Linked DNA regions of Homo sapiens. The protein of the gene in region 2 interacts with the protein of the main gene of each other region in a pairwise test. Each region holds a gene or a part of one and is shown on either strand. Other genes may lie near its edges.

The links.
Region 1: the proteins of RPL22 (region 2) and CT45A1 interact in binary tests that used the Homo sapiens proteins (3 or more experiments, as listed by UniProt).

Annotation. Positions count from the first base shown.
Region 1 is NC_000023.11:135,716,584-135,720,500, reverse strand, and holds part of CT45A1 (cancer/testis antigen family 45 member A1), read right to left. Parts: intron 1,567-3,917; 5' UTR 1,561-1,566; coding exon 1,392-1,560; intron 1-1,391.
Region 2 is NC_000001.11:6,197,463-6,201,379, forward strand, and holds the start of RPL22 (large ribosomal subunit protein eL22), read right to left. Parts: upstream 2,134-3,917; 5' UTR 2,112-2,133; coding exon 2,100-2,111; intron 295-2,099; coding exon 190-294; intron 1-189.

The DNA.
Region 1 (3,917 bases), on a different chromosome or scaffold from region 2:
GTGGCCATTACTGCTGAAAGTTCTACATGTACTCCATCAACAAAAAATCCCTTTTAGTGTATGATTTTCCTCATCCTTCCTTTCTGTCTCACAAAAGTGACTTTCTTTTCACTCCAGGTCTGACACCTCTCATTTATTCATCGTCTGTGGCAGGCAGCGTGCCGGTAGCTGGGGATCAGCAGTAAACAGCCCAGAGAGCAACGTTCCCTGCCCTTCTGGAGCTCACATCCTCATGGGGCGGTCAGACAGTACGTGCACAATGAGCAAATGAAACATACAGTGTTGGGCTAGTGGTAAGGAAGCAGTCCACAGGCCTGTGGGCAACAGCAGCAGAGGGAGCCCCAGGAGCTGCTGCTGGTTGGGCAGAGCCTTCTGTGGAGGTACCCTTGGGCAGGGCTTGAAGGAGAAAGCAGAGCTGCCTGCGCAGAGGCAGAGGGGGAGTTCCAGGTTGCGGTGAGGCCAAGGATATGGGCTGGAGTGGGGATGGACCGGGCACTACGGGGTGAAGGACAGTAGCAGAGAGAGTCAGGAGATGATGGGGCCCGTGTGAGGAGAGGGTGACGGAGGCCAGGCCACGCAGAACCTCACAGACCAAAGCTGCTTCGCAGTCGGTTCTGAGTGCTTAGGAGTGTTGAGGATGGGTGTTCAGGAGCGACATGGCATCACGTGATTTACATGCCAACATCATGACCCGGCTGCAGGGTTGGAGGGTATGTGTTTGATGCGGGAAATAATGGGAAACATGGAGGTATCTCAGGAGCTCAGTGATTGATCGTGGCAGAGTGGAATAGAAGGAGAGAGAGAGATGCTGGGGTTCAGGAATTTTTTGCAGTATTTAGAGAAGAGAAGAAAAAGAAATGTAGAAAAAAACAATGATGGGGTCGGGGGCGGTGGCTCGTGCGTGTAATCCCAGCACTTTGGGAGGCTGAGGTGGGTGGATCACCTGAGGGGGGGAGTTCCAGACCAGCCTGGCCGACATGGCGAAACCCCATCTCTACTAAACTTACAAAAATTAGCTGGGTGTGGTGGCTGGTGCTTGTAATCCCGCTACTCGGGAGGCTGCGGCAGAAGAATCACTTGAACCCAGGAGACGGAGATTTCAGTGAGCCGAGATCGCGCCACTGCACTCCAGCCTGGCTGAGAAGAGCGAAAGTCCATCTCAAGAAAAAAATGATAGGGATTCACCAATACGGACAAGAAATTAAAAAAAAAAAAGATTGTCGGAAATGGAAATCCTAGAAGGTTTTCATGAAGAAGCGAGTGAACAACTGTCAAATGCTGCTGAGAAGTTAATGGCAATGTCAGCCGAAACTGTTAACCTTGACAAGGACAGTTTCTCTGGAGGGGATGAGGCAGGAGCATGAGGAGGACGTGAGGACAGGCTTACTTACTCTTTGCTTTGGACATGGCAGAGCCTGCAATAAGGCTGTCTCCTGCTCCTTGTTTCCTTGCCAACAGGGCCATCCTCTGCCTTTTCTGATACGAAGGACTGTCACATTCCCTGGGACGTTTAAACACAGTTTCAGGATCTACAGCCACCTTCTCTGTTTTATCGGTCATTGTTTCCTGAAAAACATCAATGAATATATTCTATTCATGACAAAAATCTAACAATCACAAAATGGCAAGCAATCTGCATATGTGTATACAACCAAGACTTTGAATCATTAATTTCACTTTTAATCATGAGCCAAGATTTACCAAGTCTCAACAAACACTCTGTTCTCAGGAAAAGAAACCTAATTTTAATGTACACAAAGTAAAACAGAAGAAAGATGGTATAACCAAATCAATCAGAATGCTTGTGGAATAAGCAGCTGTCATCAACCAAAAATAGATAAAAATATTATTACCTATTTGAAGATGTATAAGCCAATCTGTATTAACCCTTATTAGGAAAAATAGCTGTATAAACCAATCTGTATTAACCCTTGTTAAACATTATATTTTAAACTATATATTATACATTATATTATGCAAAATATGTATTTAATATATAAGTATTTATACTTATATATTCAAATAGATGTATAAACCAATCTGTATTAACCCTTATTAGGAACTCTTATTAGAAGATTGATACAAAACTGATAACAACATCTGACAAGGAATTTAGAAGAATGAAAAACTACAAGATCAAGCCAAAAATACAAGCCAATATCACCCCTGAACTTAGACACAAAAATTCCAAACTAAGGGTGAGCAAATAAAATGCAATAGTACTTAAAAAGGACATACATCATGGTGGAGTATATTGCAGAAAGGCAACATTGATTTAACATTTGATAATCGATAAATGTAATGCACCACATTAACAACAACAACAACAGCAACAAACAGGGAAACACCACATGATCATTTTCATACATGGTCAATGTTTAAAGTCCATTCGTGATAAAAACTATCACCAACTTAGGAAAAAGGGCAAGTTTCCTATTCTGGTTAGCATATGTACAAAAAATTTTTAAATGCCATACTTCATAGTGACGTATCAGTATTTTCTCCCTGAGTTTGAAAACAAGACAAAGATGTCCACTATCCATTCAACAATCTATTGGAGGTTCTAAAAAGTGCTGTAGCATCAGGAAAATACAATAGGTTTAAAATTTGGAAAGAAATAAAACTGTCATTCACAGATGACATTGTTCTGTACATAGAAAAATGCAGAAGAATAAAATCATTACAGTTAATAAGCAAATTTAGTCAACTTACTAGATATAATGAAAACCAATGGCATTTCTGTATAATTAATAGCAACAAATAATTAGAATATGAGATTTCAAATGTCATTAAAAACAGTACCAAAAACATCAAATATTTAGGAATAAATTTAATCAAGATGTGGTACAGCACTACACAAAAATTATAAAACATCACTCAGAGAAATTCAAGACTGCAGTAAATGGAGAAAAATATTCTTTCCATGCAATGGAAGACATCATTTTTTTTTTTGAGTCGGAGCCTCCCTCTGTCGCCCAGGCTGGAGTAGAGTGGCACAGTCTCTGCTCACTGCAACCTCCACCTCCTGAGTTCAAGCAATTCTCCTGCCTCAGCCTCCCGAGTAGCTGAGATTACAGGCGCCTGCCACAACGCCTGGCTAATTTTTGTATTTTTAGTAGAGACGGGGTTTCACTATGTTAGCCACACTGGTCTCAAACTCCTGGCTGCAAGTGATCTGCCCACCTCGGCCTCCCACAGTGCTGGGATTACAGGCGTGAGCCACCATGCCTGGCTGGAAGACATTATTAAAAGACATTATTAAAAGACATTATTGTCAAGTCTCTCAGAATGATCCTAGCAATCATATTTAAAATTCCACCATGTTAACAAAAGTTTTTCTGAAAATTCACAAGCAGATCATTTTTTAAGTATATGCAAATTAAAGATTTGGAAAAGCCAAGTTTTTTTTAAGCCAAGGAAAATACAAAGTTTTTTTTAAAGAAAAAGAACTAAGTTAGTAGATACGCACTACTATATATGAAATTTACTATAAAGGTAGAGTAATTAAAACAGTGTGGTACTGGAGCAATGACAGGCAAATACACCAAGGGAAGAGGACACAGAGGCCAGAAACAATCTGGAAATACAAAATACAGAAGAGTTGTAAATCATTGTGGAAAAGACAGTGCTTTTAATAAATGCACTTGATAAATGCAGGGAAAATACAAACCTTGACTCTTACTTCTTCCCACTCCACAAAACTTTATTAAAGATGGATAGACAATCTAGTAAACACTTAAGATACTGTCTTCACAACTATAGTATAGGCAAAGATGTTTTTAATGAGGATAAACAAGCACTAACCATAAAGAATGAATTGTTTAATTAGACATAATTAAATGGAAAAGTTCTGTTCCTCAAAGACACTATTAAGAGGTGAAAAACCAAATCATGTTTGTAGATTATACATTATGTAG
Region 2 (3,917 bases):
TGCACACACAAGAAGAAACAAGACTTGGAAACAAACAAGTAATCTGCCCACATTCCCAGGGTGAGATGATACAGCCAGACCTGTGAAGCTGCCTATAAGCCTGAAAACAGAAATGTACCCCAGTAGGTTTTCTCAACAGTATCTCAAAATGTTCGTGACCACCCGAGTGGCAATAAGGATGTAACTTACAAAATTGGCAGCATCCATGATTCCATCTTCTACAGGGTGGGTGCAATCAAGAGTGAACTTCAGAACTTGCTTCTTTTTTTTGCCCCCCTTCACCACAAGCTTTTTCTAAGAAAATACACAAATGATAACAGAGATGAAGTTTCAGTCAGTCGGAAAAACAAGATTAACAGAACCAGAAACGTCATAGGTATAAAAGTCCATACAAATACAAAACTAACGGAAGTGTGCTCCCTTTGCCAGAGGGCCAAGAGGCATCACTGCCTGAGTGCCAGAGGTATAATGGGGCAGATGCTGCTGTACAAGCTTGGGGCCTGGGGTCATGCCCTTTTGATGGGGAAATCATTCTAGCACTCTTGACTCACTCAAACTTTCCAGTCTCCCCAATCTCTACAGGCATGAAGGTCTCTTAGTTTATGAACCACAATAAAATGAACACTTCCTTTTGTTTGCCCTAACATTCCCAATTTCAAAAAAATACTATTTTTCCAAAATTAGAGTGCAGGCATACAAAATGCCTTGCATACCCACAATTTTCATATGAAATCAATCCTTGTCCTACATGTTCAGAGTAGGGTCCTGATCCGTCTTAGCTCATCTCCCTTAATCCTGTCTCATCCACCTTCTCATGAAGGGAGTTGCAAAGTATTCTAGGTGCCTGTCCACTCCAGCTTGGACAAGGTTAAGGCTAAAACCTAGAATCTTATTACAACACTACCGTCAAGAACTTCTGACATTTTGATTCGCTTCATCTATGCATTAGTACTTCCAAACCACCCGGCAAAGCACATCCTACAAGGTTCCAGTTTCTTCACTCTTACGAAGAAGCTTGTGTTAATCTTATCTCTCTACAAACTTGACACCATTAATGCACTTGTGCATCGTACCAACCTGTACTTTCACGTTTAAAAGCTCTGCAGAACTAAATAGACTTTTCCAAAAACACATCTTACCTCCCTTCATGTTTAAAAGAACTTCATCTAAAACTTGTGTTAACTGGATCAACTTTTCAAACATTTGGCCACTACAAAAATCACTGATTTATTTTTTACAACGTCTCTTCGCAGTAATAATCTAAGAGGGGTACTTTAAGATCTATTCCGAACACACACAATCAATCAAGAGACCTACCCACAACGGGCTTGATACTTCTCCATCAAGGTTTTAAACCAAAAGGCATTCAAAAGCCCAACCAGACAGAAAGAGCAGAAGAACCGGAAATGTTAACCAGGGAGTCCCAACAAAAGAGGAAAAGTAGGATCTTGGGACGAAGAACACGGAAAAACAACTTTCTCAAATAACCTAGGAGGAGGGCGCCGCACAGCCCAGTCCCAGCATAGCTAAAGGAGAATGCAATGAGAGCCTTCTCCCTACACCACTGCAACACCCGTTTGGGTCTGTACAGTGCGCCCTGATAAACTAATTTCCTCTGGGGACGCTAAAAAGCTCCTCAAACCCAGGCCTCCTCTCCGAAAGCACGCCGACCAAGCCGCCCTTCCGCGGATTCGTCCCCGAGTCTTGGCCGTGGACTTCCGAATGCGCGGCTCCCCAGGGTAGCAGGTCCCGTTCTTCTTCCCCGCCCTCCACCCAGGTAATCAGGCCCCCGGCCGGGGTCCGAGGACCAGTGGCCGGCCCAGACCGCAGTCTCCAGGCTCCAGCTCCCCGCTAGCCCCTAGCTGGGGCCCCGGGCCTCCGAGACCTCCCGGATCTCCCTCACGAGCCTCGGGCCGCGGCCTCCTCCGCCTACAACGTGCTGGGATCGGCAGGGGCTCTGGCCCGCTCCGGCCGACCTGCCAGCCCACCCCAGCAGGACGCTGCAGGGCGCCGTCCCCAGCGAGCCTGGGTAGATGCCGGGCTCGGCGAGGCCCACGTGCCTCCCCTGGAGCCGAGGCCTCACGCGGAGCCATACTAACCACAGGAGCCATGGCGGCAGCGGAGTTAGAAAGGGAGGTGAGCGAACTACGCAGACGCAAAGAGCCCGCAGCGCGCAAGGCACGCAGGGTCCAGGCCGCACTAATCACTTTGCCACGCCCCTCGTCCGCCACCTTTTCTCTTGGTTATGTACGATAGGGGAGCGATTGGTTTTTCCTGAATGCAAAACGCGTCCTCTCCCAGGCCTGGAGGGTTTCTGGGGAAGGAAGGAGGCCCGGCGGGCTGTCCCACTGCGAACGATCGGAGGGGGGAAGCCAGACTGGACGAGCCCAAAGATAAATAAAGGGGTTGGCTTTACTTTTTGAAAGTCTTGGGAAGAAAAAAGAAATAAGGAAATTCACTATACTGTAAATTACCAGCTAGTGGGATGGAAATCGAATCTACTAATTTGGGGAAGTGGGAAAATTCCTTGTAGCCACCGGGAAATTTCGTTCAGAGGTCCCAATGCCAGACCACTATGGCTTCCTCAAAAAGCCCCAGCTTGGAAGCTCATGCCCAGGGGCTGTCTCCCAGTGCCTGTCCTTTTTGCTGTAGCCAGGCCGCCCCCTCGCTGATCACCACTCCCTAGTTTCCCAGCCCAAGCCTTCTAGTTTCCCATCCCAAACCAGTAAGTAGTTGAGGACCACCAGGAGATCTGGAAAATGCAGATTCCAATTCCAGCGGTCTCAGTGGCCTGAAATTCTGCATTTCTCACAAGCTCTCAGACGATGCTGATGCTGCGAGTCCATGGACCGCATGTGGAGAAGCAAAGGTCCTCATCCCCAGGCCCACAGGTCCCTTGAACTGGGCTACTTTGCACCCAGTCACCCGCTGCGTCCTCACGGAATTATATTCCAGGATCCTGAATTGTAAATCACTCAGTGGCACACACACTCTCCACTCCCTTTACCTGGCTTCAGTGTACTCACCTAGCAAAAGTCCAATCACCAGAAGAGACTGTGCTGATGGGTCTAGCTTTCAACTCAGGCCTCAAGCCGGTTGACCAAGCTCCAAAGCCAGCTGCTGTTCTTGGCTCTATAATGATCAGGCTGGGCCTCTGCAAACACTTCTGCTTTCCAGCTGATCCCGGTTTGGCTCTATCAATAGGGGGCTTTGCTTCCTGCTTGCTCCTGTCCTGTCTGGTGTCATCCACTCTTGCTTCTTTATCCTGGAGGTGGCAGTTGGAACATTCTGGAAGCAGCAGTGGAATCCAGTCTGCACTTATTCCAACATTTGCAGAACCAGCCTCGTTTTCTCCTCAGAGACACCAGCCCTAGCAGAGCAGCACCCTCTCCTCAGATGTCTGAGTTTCACCTCCCTGTGCCCCTCCTCAAGCATCTACATTTTAATAATACCACCTACCAGTGGTAGCTACTTCCTGCAGTTGCTACTGTTAGTATTATACCCCGACAGTTACCTAAACACATCTTTATACCTAGTTAACAATCCTTTATATTAAATTCTCTCAGTTAAAAACTATAATGTGTTGTCTTTTGACTGGACCCTGGCTGATAACGGACCCTAAGCGAGCCCTCAGGGCTACTGACAATCCTAAATCTCTCCCCCAAGGGACTATTTCCCTTTCTTGTTGTTTTTAATAGAGACAGGGTCTTGCTCTGTCACCAAGGCTGGAGTGCAGTGGTGTGATCATAGCTTACTGCAGCCTCAAACTCCTGGGCTCAAGTGATCCTCCCACCTTGGCCTCCCAAATTGCTGGGATTACAGGCATAAGGCACTGCACCTGGCCCAAAAGACTATTTCACACCTCAGTCATAATGCCAGCCCCTTCTTCCTAAACCTCCCTCTCAGCAGTTGACTTT